Regions from separate parts of the Homo sapiens genome. Here region 2 is linked to region 1. A link means that fine-mapping ties the variant in region 1 to the expression of a gene that starts in the linked region. Tissue or cell type: transverse colon. Region 1 holds a variant in brackets; the other region holds the start of a gene. All regions are shown on one strand. Distances are between the middles of the regions.

Region 1 (8,106 bases):
CAATATTTTCAAGGCTTGACCTGGGAGGAGAGAATGGTGTATTTGGGTGGTATGAGCAGAGGAAAAAACTTTTTCTCAGTATTTTCAGTCATTTTCTGGTGAGTCAGTGTTCAGCAGAGCAAGGACATCCAGGTAAGTCTCAAAGATGTGGTATCTATGGAAGAGTAGATGATTGTAGTGGTTAGGAATAGCTGTACTCTTGAGTAGTTGGTGATCGTGGTTCCTCAGTTCCACTGGAGCTTCCGAAGAGTTTATAATCACCAAGCCAACATCTGCTGGGATGGTGTCTTTGAGCATAAGACTATGTTTGGGCAATAACAGGACATAGGGCTGCTTACCTGTTGTAGAGCAGAACTGCTCTTCTGAAATATTAGTCTCCTTCCTCGTTGAGGAAATGGTTATATTTTCCCATCCTGTGGCCTCATCTCCCTGCCTACTTTTCCTTATAAGGATAGTTCAGATGGGTTAGTCTTGGCTCTCTAGCTGAGGCGACCAGACTTCAAGTGTCTGAGGACCAGGTAGCCATCTCCATGGAAGTCCAGAGTTTCCAGAGCTGCTGGGTGGTGACTTCTTCCGTTAAGCTCTAACCTTGGGGAGGGCAGGAGATGTCATCAAAATTTGTTTAGTTGGTTACAGCCCTCAGCCTTCCCTCATTCCCTGCAGCTGCTCATGTGTTGAGGGTTGACTTGTGATTAGACCCTGAGGTGCATCTGCTTTTCATGCCATCTTGGATGGGTTAGACTTCCCAAACACAGAGGAATGTGCTTGCTAGCCCTGAAGGAGATATGGCCAAAGGTAGAGTCTTGGACTCAAACTTTGATGTTCACACTCCTTATAGACATGTAAATATTCCTAAAGGTTGGAAATAAAAATAGATTCCAGAAGTTAGAGAGAAAACATATAGACCCGGCATATGTTGCTTTTAAAAAATAAAATAGCTTCATGGGATTTTTTTGTGAATTCAATGAGATATAAGTGAATTTCTTATGTAGATAATGATTTTACCTAAACCAAATAATTAGATAGTCTACTTGGTCCTCACCAGTCATGTTATTTGCAATTCTACATATGAGCCTGCTTTAGTGGGTTGTCTCTTCCTGTGATAAAATTAAAATGTCTACATATACTCTTTATTTCAAAACTATCACACAATTCACTACAACTTTCAAAAGAGGTATAGTTTGTTTTTTAATTAAAACCACATCTGTGAAACAACCAGTAGTGATAAAACATAGTTTCTTTCTTTTTTTTTTTAATTTATTTTTTTGAGACAGAGTCTTGCTCTGTCACCCAGGCCGGAGTGCAGTGGCACAGTCTCAGCTCACTGCAACCTCTCCCTCCTAGGTTCAAGTGATCTTCTGCCTCAGCCTCCTGAGTAGCTGGGATCACAGTCACCTGCCCCCACGCCTGGCTAAAAAATATAGTTCCTAGGCATCCTTTCTTTTCACATCACCTCACATGCCTGATACACCCCATTAAGCTAACATTTGCATGACATTTTTGTTAATCATTTTGATAATCATTCTATAAATGTCTTTATAGTTTTACTACATACATATATTTTCCTAAATGATATACTGTTTCTTATTTCCAGATTCTGAATTTTCTATACATTTTACACTGTATGGGTGACTAGATTCTATAATATGTTTTTTAGGTTTGTCCACAAAGGTTCCTGTCATGATGGTAAGCTAATTTCCATAATCTATTAGATGATTAATCCAGAATCTGCTCTTCTAATAGATGTTCTCAAGGAAGTGAAACATTTATTCCTGTGCTTGGTTTCAGAAGGAGGATATTATTTACATATTGTCCCACTCCTGTCATGGACTCATCTCTCCTCACTCTCCTCCTCCCCTCCCTTCCATATGCCACATAATGGTCTAACTGAAATAACTAATGCCATAGCTGCCATGGAAGGGGTAAAGAGCTTGTGTCTCTCTCTATTCTACCATGTTCTCAATCCCAATATTGACTCCCCTCCTCCTTTTCAGAGTCAAGTAGTACTGAACACCCAGTTCCAGAAAGCTCCAAGAAGGAGGGAGGGCTTCATTTTCTCTTGTCCTCATAAGTCACTCCAATGCTGTGTTGAAATTGATCATTATTCAGCCAACAGATGGAAGGGGCAGGAAAAGAAGTAGGGAAATTAGATTGACACGAGGGGACTAGATTCAATGGGAATGGATGTAGTGGGACTACACATAATAAAGGGTTGACATCTTTTTTTTATCAATAGTTGTGTGTTGTAAACAACAGTCTAGCATTCTACCCACCTGTGAGGAACTGGCTTTATATTTGGAAATGGAAGAGCAGTGGGAACATGGAGCATAAAGGGATGAAGGAGAGAAATGGAGGGGGAGTTGCCTCATGGGTTTGCCGCCTATTGTTGTGCCTGTACACCAATGTTGGGTCTTTGAGGAAGGAAGGAGCACAAATGAGCATGGGATAAAGGAGGAAAGTAAATCCTTGGGCTCCCATACTCTCTCATCACCTACATCCAGAATTCAGAGCCTTTTCTTATTGTCATACATCAGGCATTGCTTGGCCACCGTTAATTTTAATATTGGGTGTCCTTTTGTCAAAGGAAATTTGGGGATCTATACGTGGCTCTTCCCAGAGAAACCTCTTTACTGTGGCCCTGAAGATCCTCTTCAATTCCTTCAAAAGAAGGAAAGATTGGGGTATCAGCTGCAGGAAACTGAAATCCAGGCCCATCTCCAAAAACAGCAGTTTCTGGATGAGTCCGAGAGAAGTTCTCAACCCTAATTTCTCCTCCATCTCCTATTCCGTTATCTCCATCTCCATCATCATCTCCATCTCCGTCTCCATCTCCATCATCATCTATCATCTCCAATCTCCATCTCCGAAGTTATGCCCACTTCCTGGAAGTTTGGAGGCACGGGAACTACATTGCCCAAAAGGCGCAGCGCCGCGAGGCGGCGATCCCTGACCAATGAAAAGAGGTCTGCCCGAGCGTGCGACACGCAATGGGCGGGACTTCCGGCGTCTCGTTTGGTATTCACTTTCGCGACTCAGGTGAACTAACCTGCGAGAAGCTGGTTGTGCGCTGAGGCGACCAGCGCCGGAAGGCACGGTGGCGACTCACGCTGTTCTCGCCGCTCAGAGGCGGGTCTGAGGCTCGGTGGCGGCGCCCAGGGTGGCCCGGGCCCTTTCCTCGGTCATTGTCTCCCCTCCAGCTCTACTCACAGGCTCCGATGGCGGCGGCCGCCCTGAGGGACCCCGCTCAGGTGAGCGCCGCGTCCTCCTGGCCTCCCCCGAATCCTAAAGCCCTGTGAGGGCCGCCTGCTCAGGTCCCCGGGTGCAGAACTGTGGGGCGTTCGTGCGCGGCGTCCCGTTTCTGACACGCAGTGTGATGGGGTGGCAATGGAGGGCAAGGGGCCCGGCTCGCAAAGATGTGAGGCGCATTCAGCGAGTCCCGAACCTGAGGCCTCCTGGTGTCTGTAGTGGGCAGCTTGGGAAGGGACGAGGCGCGTGTCGAGCGACAGCCCGAGCAGCTGCGCTTTCATCCTGAGGGGGCCACAGTGGCCGCGGAGGGCTGGAGACAGAAGAGTGACAAGATCTGTTTCTCAAAGTTTGCCAAAGGCCCTTCAAGTCAAAACAGACTGGGGTGGGGGTGAGGCGGGTGAAGACAGACCTGTGAGTAGGTAAATTCAGTAGACTAGTGGAGAGTCTACTGGGACTGGGCCA[C/T]AGAGGAGGGGAAGTGATCAGATCTTGGATGGATATCAAAAACTGAACAGACAGGAATTCCTGTTGCATCAGATGTGACTGAAAGAAAGGGAATGAAGAGCCATTCTGGATTTTTATTTGTATTTTTGTTTGTTTGTTCCTGAATATCAGGAAGGATGGAGATGGGTAAGGCTGTGCAGGGAGTAGGTTTTGGACATGGTAATCCTGAGATGACCCAGAGTGGAGGTGTCGTGTCCACATGGGCAGCTTGCCCACTCACATCTGGAAGTTTGGGGAGGGATCTGGGCTGGAGATATGGTAGATATGGGCTGGTTGGGTAGAGGCCTGGACTAGGGTAAGTCCTGGGGCTCCTATTTAGGAGGGAGAATCTTAAGGTTCCCTTTCAGATGGGCCCTAAGGTGAGAGAAGGGAGAGATGGCCCTGTAGGACGGGGCTGCCTCTATAGCATGGAGTTTTGTGGTCAGAAGTGGTTCTGTCTGGTGTCTGCCGGAATGGAGGGTTATAGAGTATGAAGACCCAGGACTGCATGGAGACTGCAGTGTTGAGTAGTATATAGGTTTGCCACTCCAGGCTCAGCAGTTCCTCATGTACAGTCCGTATGGACAAAAGGAAACGTCAGCCAGGCTGCTGGAGCAGCCCCTTTGGTGCCTAAGTTTCCCTAGCCGTCAGCACAGGAGGGATGATCAACTGCTCCAGTAGAAGGGCTCTCAGCAGGATGGTCTTCAGGGGAGTATATAGCAGGCAGCCAGGTTGCCAAAAGGAATGGTATGTGCTCAGGTTTCTCAGACCCAGGTCCCAGTTTATTAACTTGTGAATTTATGAGGTAAGTATTTAAGCACTAATTGATCATAGTTCATATACACACAGGGGCAAATAAAACAACACGGATTTATTAAGTTAAACTGATGTAAGCACTTCATAATTGGTTGTAAAGTTAGTATACTGGAAAGTATTTGATTAAAATAAAGCACCTTAAGTATCACATTCTTAATTTAAAAGTAAGTTTAAGAAACCCATATTTTCTTTTTCTTTCTTTCTTTCTTTTTTTTTTTTTTTTTTTTTTGAGACAGAGTTTCGCTTTTGTTGCCCAGGCTAAACTGCAATGGTGCAATCTCTGCTCACTGCAACCTCTGCCTCCCTGGTTCAAGCGATTCCCCTGCCTCAGCCTCCTGAGTAGCTGGGATTACAGGCATGCACCACCACGCTCAGCTAATTTTTATATTTTTAGTAGAGACGAGGTTTCACCATGTTAGCCAGGCTGGTCTCAAACTCCTGACCTTAGACGATCTGCCCACCTCGGCCTCCCAAAGCATTGGGATTACAGGTGTGAGCCACTGCGCCTAGCCAGAAACCCACATTTTGAAAACCTACCAGTTTATTTGCGCTGAAAATGTTGACAGAAGCATTAATTATGTGTACAGTAAGAGTTGATACTTAGTCCTAGACACATAAGAATGAGTTTGATACAAACAATCGTCCTATTGAGTAAATACCATTATTATTGCCATGTTGCAGATGGCAACACCAAGGCACAGGGAAGTTGAGCACTTTTCCAAGGGCACACAACAGGTAAGAGGCATCACTAAGAACCAAAGCCCAGATTGTAGATAGTCAGGCACACCTGACTCCAGGCTAGACGAGTGGGCTTGGATGATCCTTTGGCAACATCACTGTCTGGTTCTCATAGTCTTGATTTTCCATAGGTTCCTGTGGCTGCAGACTTGCTTACAGACCATGAGGAGGTAAGTGGAGGATGTCTCAGGTCCTCACACTCCTGCACTCCTACCTACATGGTCTTCAGAATTATGGTGTCTTGAGGCTCCTTGCTGGCTATTCTCCCTACCCTTCCATTTGAGTTCCCTGGAAGATGGTCACACACAGTCAGGGCCCTGAGTCCAGACTATATATTATTTTTATTATTTTCTTTTAAGACAGAGTTTTGCTCTTGTTGCCCAGGCTGGAGTGCAAAGGCGCGATCTCGGCTCACTGCAACTTCTGGCTCCTGGGTTCAAGCAATTCTCCTGTCTGAGCCTCCCGAGTAGCTGGGATTACAGGCATGCGCCACCACACCAGCTAATTTTGGATTTTTGGTAGAGAGGTTTCTCCACGTTGGTTAGGTTGGTCTCAAACTCCTGACCTCAGATGATCCGCCCGCCTTGGCCTCCTAAAGTGCTGGGATTACAGGCGTGAGCCACCGTGCCCAACCCAGACTATGTATTCTATGGAGAGGTTCTCATTTCTGGCAACCAATGACAGGAGGTTTAGAAGGCATAGTGATCAACATTAGAAAATACATGGAGGTAAGGTTGAGCTGGGAATGCTTAGACAACCTCAGATCTCCATTATGTCTGGGGGAAGCATCAGCGGGTATAAGGCCAACATGAAGTGATTGGCTGAGGAGCTGAGCTGAGGTGTCCTGATATGTGTGCAATTCCAAGTAGCTAAAGATGAAGCAAGAAAAAGAGCCAAGGAGGGAGGCCTTCAAAGTGGGGCTGAGGATTGGCCCTGGCAGTCAGTGCCATTGGGGGTCTGGGATGGCACGGAGTTCTGATTGCATTTGGTAAGTGCCCTCTGGATGCCATGTGTAGACTGGCATGTGGTGACACTAGGGGAAGCACATGAGGTGATGTAGAGGGTAGTGGTTGTGGTACAAAGTATGTGCACATTCTAATAAGTGTAAACAGATGTCCCCAGGACCTTGTACTGGGGGCTTCAGGGAGAACACTGACACAAATTTGATTGTATTTGAGAAACACAGTCTAGGGGATCCAAGGTAAATTGTCTGGCAAGAGAAGAGTAGGACTCTGCATACCATGCCCAGAGCTGAGATGGACTTTATCTGCCTACCTGCCTATTGTTGCTCAGTGGGAGCATGAGGAGAGAGTGGGCATCAGTGGCTCTGGGGCAGGGTCTCTCCTCTGAGATGGGGATTAAGGAAGAGGGTGAGCAGGGGTGGATGTTTAGGCAGATGCCTAAATTTCCCAGTAAGGAGGCTGCAGATAAACTCTACTCTGTCCATCTTAGCAGGGCTATGTGACCTTTGAGGATGTGGCTGTCTACTTCTCCCAGGAGGAATGGAGATTGCTTGATGACGCTCAGAGGCTCCTCTACCGCAATGTGATGCTGGAGAACTTTACACTTCTGGCCTCTCTGGGTAAGGTTCTCACACCCCACCCCAGCATCCTGAGCTGGGCTCGGCTTTTCCTCCTTTTCCTAGGGAGAGGTCTGTTCTTCCCAAAGCTGAACTGTGGGCACTCATTCCTTCTCCAGTATCCTGAAGTAGCTATTGTAATAGGCCTGGGCTGTGTATACTACCACCTTCTCTCCCCAAGCTGCCCCACAGCTGTGCAGGAAAGGGTTTGGGGGTCAGGAGTCTTGCAGTCAGCTTGATGGATCTTATCCCTGGTGGCCTCTCTGTGGCCTGGTGACACTGTGCAGATCTGTGGTAGTTCTATTCCCCTACATTCTGCCTGTCTCCTCTAGCCAACATACCTGGGTGTCGGTCTGTGCCAGCAATTGAGTCACCAATGTGATTGCTGTTTGACTGTGTTGTTCCTGCAAGACCCTCCTCCAAGGTTCTTTCTGTACTATTTTGTTTTCTTTCCTGTGGTCCATGATGAGATAAGTCATTCTGGCTCAGTGCTGCCACTCACCTGTCGTTTTCCTTAGGACTTGCATCTTCCAAGACCCATGAAATAACCCAGCTGGAGTCATGGGAGGAGCCCTTCATGCCTGCTTGGGAAGTTGTGACTTCAGCCATACCGAGAGGTAGTTGGTGGGTGGAGCTCAGGGAGGTGTGAACTCAGGGATGGATTCATATCATACCAGTAGGCCCAGATATTTTGATACCAAGGCAAGGGGTTGTCGCTGATTTCTATCTTTTCTTCCTTAGTCACCCATTTATATCTATTCTGATGTTTGACCTAGGGCCATTCCCCACCTCTCTGTCCTCCATGTTTCACCCAGTCATCAGCAGAACCCTTCAGCAGTGGCTTTCACTGAATGTGTGGTGAGGTGGATGCTTATCCTTGCATAGTCCTTGAGCATCAGCTATTTGGTTGCAGTTGGTTTTTTCTGGACCTGGACATAACCTTCTGTGCCGTGTTCCTGTGTCTCCAGCAGCCAAAGTCCTGTGGAAAGCCATTTGCAGAGGATTGTGTTGGGGACACTGCCTCTCCTCCCTGTGCTATACCCCATCCTTGCATCCTTGGTGCTCATGAGGCCTCCCCAAATCCTTGAGCTGGCCAGATTCAGCACTGCACAGCAGGCCCTTCCCTGCTGAGAGCTAGCCCTCTTTATTTCTGCTAGCAGCCCCAGGCACTAATTACTGGGTGTGTTAGACACATCTGTGAGAGTGCTGCCTCCTCACACCAAAGTCTACATTTACTTCTTCAACAT
Region 2 (8,106 bases), 31 kb before region 1:
CGATCTCAGCTCACCGCAACCTCCACCTTCTGGGTTCAAGCGATTCTCCTGCCTCAGCCTCCTGAGTAGCTAGGATTACAGGCATGCGCCACCACGCCTGGCTAATTTTGTATTTTTAGTAGAGACGGGGGTTTCTCCATGTTGGCCAGGCTGGTCTCGAACGCCTGACCTCAAGTGATCCACCTGCCTTGGCCTCCCAAAGTGTTGGGATTACAGGCGTGAGCCACCATGCCCGGCCTATAAATTTTCTAGTATCTTATACAAATGAAATCCTACATTACATTCATATGGAGCATTTTTTGATATTTATACATGTTAAGCGTATTCATTTTTTGTTGATGAAGAGTATTGCATTGAATATACCACAATTTATTAATCTATTAATAAATATTTTGATTGTTTCTAGTGTTGGACTAAAAAACTAACAAAGACCCATGAACATTCATATACAAGTGTTTATATGAATATATTTAGCAGAATTGCATTTGTTATACCTCCTTGTCCATGATGGTTATGGTGTATTTTAAAGATTAACCATTTTCATAGATGTGTTGTGGTCAGTGTGGTTTTTAAATTTGCATTTCTCTAATAATTAATGATGCTGAATAAGTTTTTATATGCTTATTTGTTATCTGTATATTTGGCCAAATTTCTAAATCTTTTCCCTTTTTTTAAAAAAAAATCTTATTTTTCTATTTTAATAGAGTTTTAATTTTAGAACATTTTAAGATGTACAGAGAAATTGCAAATATAGTACAGAGATATCTCATTTACAAGCACACCTAGTTGTTACTAATATATAGTCATATATTAGTATACAGCATTATTTACAATTAGTGAAACAGTTTTGATACATTATTAAACTAAAGTACATCTTTGATTGAGATTTCCTCAGTTTTTACCAAAATACATGTTCTGTTCCAGAATTCCACCTAGGATACCACATTGCATTTATTTTATTATTTTTTATTCTTTTATTTATTTTTTTTCATGTGTCTCTAAATGTAACCACATTACAGTTAGTACTCACATTTCTTTAGGCTTGTCTTGCTTATGAGAATACTCATTTATTTTGATATTGATTTTTAATTTTTTTTTTTTTAGATAGTCTTGCTCTATTGTCCAGGCTGGAGTGCAGAAGCACTTTCTTTCTTTCTTTTTTTTTTTTTTTTTTGAGACGGCGTCTTGCCCTGTCTCCCAGGCTGGAGTGCAGTGGTGGGATCTCGACTCACTGCAACCTCTGCCTACTGGGTTCAAGGATTCTCCTGCCTCAGTCTCCTGAGTAGCTGGGATTACAGGCACCTGCCACCATGTCTGGCTAATTTTTGTATTTTTAATAGAGATGGGGTTTCACCATGTTGGCCAGGCTGGTCTTGAACTCCTGACTTCAAGTGATCTGCCCACCTCAGCCTCTCAAAGTGCTGGGGTTACCGGCGTGACCCACGGTGCCCAGCCACTTTTAGTTATTTTTATTTTTATTTTGAGTCTCCCTCCGTCACCCAAGCTGGTAAGTAATTCTCGTGCTTCACCCTCTGGAGTAGCTGGGACTACAGGTGTGTGCCACATGGTTGGCTAATTTTTGTATTTGAGACAGGGTTTTTGCCATGTTGGCCAGGCTGGTCTCGAACTCCTGGCCTCAAGTCATCTTGAGTGGATCACTTGAGGCATTTGGGAGTGCCTCAGCCTCCCAAAACGGTGGGATTACAGGCGTGAGCCACTGTGCCCGGCCTGCACATGTCTTTCTTACATGTGGACTCTCCAGGGGATTTATGCTGTTCAAGAAGCACCTGAATCAAACTGTGCTTTAAAAATATTTTTAAAACATTCCATGATTCTTCATAGTACAAAAATGAGAAATCTCCCCTAAATCTCTAAAGAATTCCCTTTTTAAACTTTTTGATTTCCTGAACTTGTCTGAAGGACTTAACACAGTTATATAGAGTGTTCTTTGTGTAACAGTATCCATGACTTTCATTTTTAGCTCTGGTATTAGATCTTCCTGGACAAGAGCATTACTGGCCATGTGTATGTTGCTATCACAAATAACTAGTAGTTAATATTTCCTAAATCTTAGCAAGAGTTATGATAAATAGCTGAATTCCATGAAGAGAAAAGACTCATGGCATGACAACCAGATTAGGAAAGAGTGTTTTCCTTGTCCTGCAGGCAAAACAGAACTGAGAGATATGAGTATCACTCATGATGAGGACAAAAGGGCTGCGTGCTGGGAAACATGAGGCGACCAACACAGAGTTGGTCACTATCCACTGGCCTGGGTTTGCAACTACAGTTGTCCAAATTGTCAGAAAACTATGGACTGAATAGAAAACAAAAAAGGAGCTCACCAGGACCATGATGGTGTGTGTGGCTCTGGCTTCCTGGGAAGGTCTGCAGGAGAGTCTGTTGCTGTGATTGTGTTGGACTTGCTGCTTGTGTCTGTAGAGGAAGAAGACCATGGAGCCACTGGCCCAGACCATGAAGCCCAAACTCATAAAATCAGGGGAAAAATATAAGACTGCATGTAATGAGCTAAATCTCTTTGATGCTTTGTAAGAACAGTATCCATAATTGTTTTTTGCACTACTGTTTTTGCTATTCAGTGGGCCATTCACTAATAGAAGAACAGATGCATTCATCAAGACATGGGGGGCCCAGCAGAGGAGACAACAGAAGTCAATAAACCTTGGGGATCTAATCTTGATCTCCATCCACCTGCATATACTGGGGTTGAGCTTAATGGCTTGGAATCCATTGAGAAGGCAGATGGTGCTGAGGGAAACTCTTGTGCCCACCCTGTGATAATAAAAGACAAACTTACATCCAGTGTCATTCAGCAAATATTTCAATCCAAAAGCTGCCATTGTCTGAGGTATCCCTTTAAAGAAAAGGACCATGGAGTTAGCCAAGGCCAGTTGGCTGAGAATCAAGTCCGTGGGTCTCAGCTTGTGTCCAGTGAACAAAATTAAGTTATAAAAACAAAGGAGAAAGGAATTTCCCAGGATCCCAACTCCAGTCTGAATGAGGAAGCTAATCCCTGATTTTACTTTTCCAAAAGCCATTTCATCAAAATCTAGGGGATGTTGATTTTCATTGAGGTCTGAAGAATCAGTAGAATAAAAAAGCAGAAAGAAGTATCTTGTCATCAGTGGAGACAGAAGTTTTAATGTGTCTCCAACCATATTTTCTCATCTTAAACAGAAATTAAGATTGTCCCTGTTCGTGCAAAGGCAATTGCTTGTGTGTCCAACTGCAGAGAAGCAGGTGAATGAATGAGGGCTCAACCGCACAACAGATCCACAAATCAAACCTATAAAACTCAGGGCTTACACACATGCAACAAGTAAATACAAGCAAAACTAGGGAAATATATAAAAACAGAACACAGAAGAGTCAATATCATTAGAGTGATATTATACTATAGTTTGCAAAATGTAATCATGACGGAACCCTGGGTAATATGGACAGGGCTTTTTCTGTATTATTTCTTATGACTGCTTGTGAGTCTACACTTATTTCAATAAAACCTTCAATTAAGTAGCCTGGAGATATGAAAAGCAAAAATAATACACCATAAAACCTTTTCCACACTAATATTTTAGTAAACACCATTGTTATTGATGCATTGAAACAAATTTTAGGCCGGGTGCAGTGGCTCACACCTGTAATTCCAGCACTTCGGGAGGCCAAGATGGAGACCATCCTGGCCAACATGGTGAAACCCTGTCTCTACTAATAATACAAAATACTAATAATACAAAAATTAGCCGGGCATGGCGGCGCGTGCTAGTCCCAGCTACTCGGGAGGCTGAGGCAGGAGAATCGCTTGAACCTGGGAGGCAGAGGTTGCAGTGAGCTGAAATCAAACCATTGCCCTCCAGCCTGGGCGACAGAGCGAGACTCTGTCTCAAAAAAAAAAAAAAAAGAAATTAAAAAAACGCTACAATACAATTGGTAACAAGGCCTTCAGCACAGTACAAATGCTAACTTGAAGAATTTTTAAAAACTATAATTTTTGGAACAATCAACATTGCATCATGGTATATTTTATTTTAAGCACATATATTTCTGTTATTTTCCACCGGACAGGTCTAGAGATTGTGAATTGACTCCGTAGAAATAACCATGACCACCTTGAGCCCACACATTTTTATCTCAATGCCATTTCTCACAAGTAAATGCAAAAGATCCTGAAAATAAATACTAATCCCAGAAACACCTAAGATATCCTTAAAACTTGTTAAATAGGAAATTCAATATGTTCCAGAAAGCTTGGGTTTATTTTTAGGGAAAGATAATTCAATTGGGAGGGAATTTCATTGCACAATATTCATATATATCAATCACAAAAGAAATAGTAACTGCGGCCAGGCACGGTGGCTCACGCTTGTAATCTCAGCACTTTGGGAGGCTGAGGCGGGTGGATTACAAGGTCAGGAGATGGAGACCATCCTGGCCAACATGGTGAAACCCCGTCTCTACTAAAAATACAAAAATTAGCTGGGTGTTGTGGTGCGTGCCTGTAGTCCCAGCTACTCGGGAGGCTGAAGCCTCCTGGGTTCACGCCATTCTCCTGCCTCAGCCTCCTGAGTAGCTGGGACTACAGGCGCCCACCACCACGCCCGGCTAGTGTGTGTGTGTGTGTGTGTGTGTGTGTGTGTGTGTTTAGTAGAGACGGGGTTGCACCGTGTTAGCCAGGATGGTCTCGATCTCCTGACCTCGTGATCCGCCCGCCTCGGCCTCCCAAAGTGCTGGGATTACAGGGATGAGCCACCTCGCCCGGCCATAATTTAGATTCTTTTGGTGTCTCTATGGAATTGCTATCATCAGGGAAAATTATGAGGTATTTTCTCCCATGAATAACTACATCTCTTTAGGGGTGGAGCAATCAATAACACAGCAGTATCAAGATTCTCAGGCGAGAGGTGGCTCACGCCTGTAATCCCAGCAGTTTGGGAGGCCGAGGCTGGTGGATCAGCTGAGGTCGGGAGTTCGAGACCAGCCTGACCAACAGGGAGAAACCCCGTCTCTACTAAAAATACAAAAATTAGTCAGAGGTGGTGGCGCATGCCTGTAATCCCAGCTACTCGGGAGGCTGAGGCAGGAGAATCGTTTGAACCCCAGAGGCGGAGGTTGCAGTGAGCCGAGATCATGCCATTGCACTCCAGCCTGAGCAACAAGAGTGAAACTCGGTCTCAAAAAAAAAAAAAAAAAACTCAGGCTCTGAGGTATGAAAACCTTTTAGATTCCCACAAACCACTTGTTGACAAATGTTTTTCCTATTTATATGAACTCATCATTTATTTTCAAGATAGTTCCTGATTCTTTGCTTTAATCTCTTATTTTGCTCCATTGTCCTAGTTGTATAATTTATTTCCAATATGCATTTGGTTTCCTATTTTTTCAGCTTCTCCTTATAAAGTACCATTTTTACTATGACTATTTTGAAAGCTTCTTGTATGTATAAAGTTAGTGTGATTATTGACTTTAACATACCACCTCCTTCTCCTCCTAGCCTCAGAAAGAAGTGTTGGTAACTGGTGAGAATTTTCAGACAGATTTTCCTTTTTTTTTTTAATTTAATTTAATTTTTTTTTCTTTCTTTGCTTTCTTTTTTTTTTTTTTTTGAGACAGAGTCTCACTCTGTTGCCCAGGCTAGAGTGCAGTGGCGCTATCTCGGCTCACTGCAAACTCCACCTCCCACGTTCAAGCGATTCACCTGCCTCAGCCTCCTGAGTATCTGGGATTACAGGCGCCTGCCACTGCGCCTGGCTAAATTTTTTTTGTATTTTTAGTAGAGATGGGGTTTCACCATGTTGGCCCGGCTGGTCTCGAATTCCTGACCTCGTGATCCACCCACCTTGGCCTCCCAAAGTGCTGGGATTACAGGCGTGAGCCACCGCGCCAATTTAATTTAATTTTTTAAAGTTCCAGGATACAGGTGCCGGATGTGTAGGTTTGTTACATAGGTAAACGTGTGCCATGGTGGTTTGCTGCACCTATCAACCCGTCACCTAGGTATTAAGCTCAGCATGCGTTAGCTATTTATCCTGATGTGCTCCATCCCCCGACCCCTTTGACATATTCCAGTGTGTGTTGTTCCCCTCCCTGTCTCCATGTGTTCTCATCGCTCAACTCTCACTTATAAGTGAGAACATTTGGTGTTTGGTTTTCTGTTTCTGTGTTAGTTTTCTGAGGATAATGGCTTCCAGCTCCATCCATATCCCTGCAAAGGACGTGATCTCATTCTTTTTATGGCTGCATAGTATTCCATGGTGTATATGTACCACATTTTCTTTATCACTGATGGGCATTTGGGTTGATTCCATTTCTTTGCTATTGTGAATAGTGCTGCAATGAACATATACATGCATGTATCCTTATAACAGAATGATAATAATAGAATGATTTATATTCCTTTGGATATATACACAGTAATGGGATTGCTGGGTCAAATGGTATTTCTGGTTTTAGGTCTTTGAGGAATTGCTACACTGTCTTCCACAATGGTTGAACTAATTTACCTTCCCACCAACAGTGGAAAAGCATTCCTATTTCTCCACCACCTTGCCAGCATCTGTTGTTTCTTGACGTTTTAATAACAGCCCACTGAACAGCAAAAACCTTAGTGTGAAAAACAATTATGGAGTCTGCTCCTGGGCAATGCAAGAAATATTTGGCACCTTATATACAATTATATACTTTTCTCCTGACTTTTTGAGTTTTGGCTTCTTGGTGTGGGTCAGTGGCTCCATAGTCTTTGTCCTATACAGACACAAGCAGCAAGTCCAACACATTTGTAGCAAGAGACTCTCCTCAAATCAGTATAAGTAAAATTAGGAAAATATTAAGATGATAGTGAGGGCCGGGTGTGGTGGCTCATGCCTGTAATCTCAGCACTTTGGGAGGCCGATGCAGGCGGATCACGAGGTCAGGAGATAGAGACCATCCTGGCTAACACGGTGAAACCCCGTCTCTACTAAAAATACAAAAAATTAGCCGGACATTGTGGCGGGCACCTGTAGTCCCAGCTACTCGGGAGGCTGAGGCAGGAGAATGGCATGAACCCAGGAGGTGGAGCTTGCAGTGAGCCGAGATCGCGCCACTGCACTCCAGCCTGGGCGACAGAGTGAGACTCCATCTCAAAAAAAAAAAAAAAAGATGATAGTGAATATATCAAAATCAATATCATCATTGTGATATTATACTGTAATTGCCAAATGTAACCATGGGTGGAAACTGGGCCATGTGTAGAGGCTCTCTGAGTTATTTTTTAAACTGCTTGTGAGTCTAAAATTAAATTAAAATTATTGTTAATAAAATGGTCAGTAAAAATGCTCAGGAATATGTAAGGCAAAAATAAGGCATTATAAAACCTTGTCCGTCATTATGTTTTAATACACATCTCCTCACATACTTATCATTTCTTTCTGATGAGAACATTTAAAATCTACTCTTTTGGCAATTTTGGAATAGACATTAACAATAGTCACCACGCCGTGCAACAGATCACTAGAACACATTCCTTGTGTCTAACTGAAACTTCGTATGCTTTCACAAAAACCTCCCGTTTTTCAGTTTGCCCTCTATCTCTTTAGCCTCTGGTAACCACCATTCTACTCTCTACTTTTATAAACTCAACTTGCCTAAATTCTGCATACAAGTGAGACCATGACCATGTGGTGTTGGTCTTTTTGGACTTTCTTTGAATGTGTCCTGCCTTCAGAGATGTGTTGACCTACAAGAAAAATGTATTGAAGCATACCACTATAATGTGTGCACATTTCTGAATGTCATGTATAAGATACCTATTTTTGCCACTCCTATTCAGTATAGTACTAGAGGTCCTAGCCAGAGAAATCAGGCAAGAAAAATACCTAGCTAACTAAATAAAAGATATTCGGGTGAGAAAATATAAAGTAAAATTGTTTTTCTTTGTTGTAATATGATCTTATAAACTCTTAGAACTGGGGAACAAATTTAATATAGTTGTAAGACACAAAATCAATATACAAAAATCAGTAGCATTGCGGTACACCAATAATGAAATAGCCAAAACAGAAATCAAGAAGGCAATTCCATTTGCAATAGCTATAAAAAGCAAAATAA

The links. PIP is the estimated chance that this variant, and not a neighbour inherited with it, causes the effect.
Region 2: it holds the start of VN1R1, and the variant in region 1 is fine-mapped to the expression of VN1R1 in transverse colon (GTEx, PIP above 0.99).

The regions. Positions count from the first base shown.
Region 1 is chr19:57,484,736-57,492,841 of GRCh38, forward strand. It overlaps ZNF419 (zinc finger protein 419), which reads left to right and starts at 3,015. Exons shown (of 5, transcript NM_024691.4): 1 at 3,015-3,248; 2 at 5,412-5,450; 3 at 6,736-6,862; 4 at 7,378-7,476. The coding sequence starts at 3,216. RefSeq lists an enhancer at 2,803-3,303. The variant C/T (reference allele first, on the strand shown) is at 3,709.
Region 2 is chr19:57,453,308-57,461,413 of GRCh38, forward strand. VN1R1 (vomeronasal 1 receptor 1) reads right to left here and starts at 3,833. Exons shown (of 1, transcript NM_020633.4): 1 at 1,483-3,833. The coding sequence starts at 3,179. The coding sequence ends at 2,118. It also overlaps the pseudogene VN1R107P.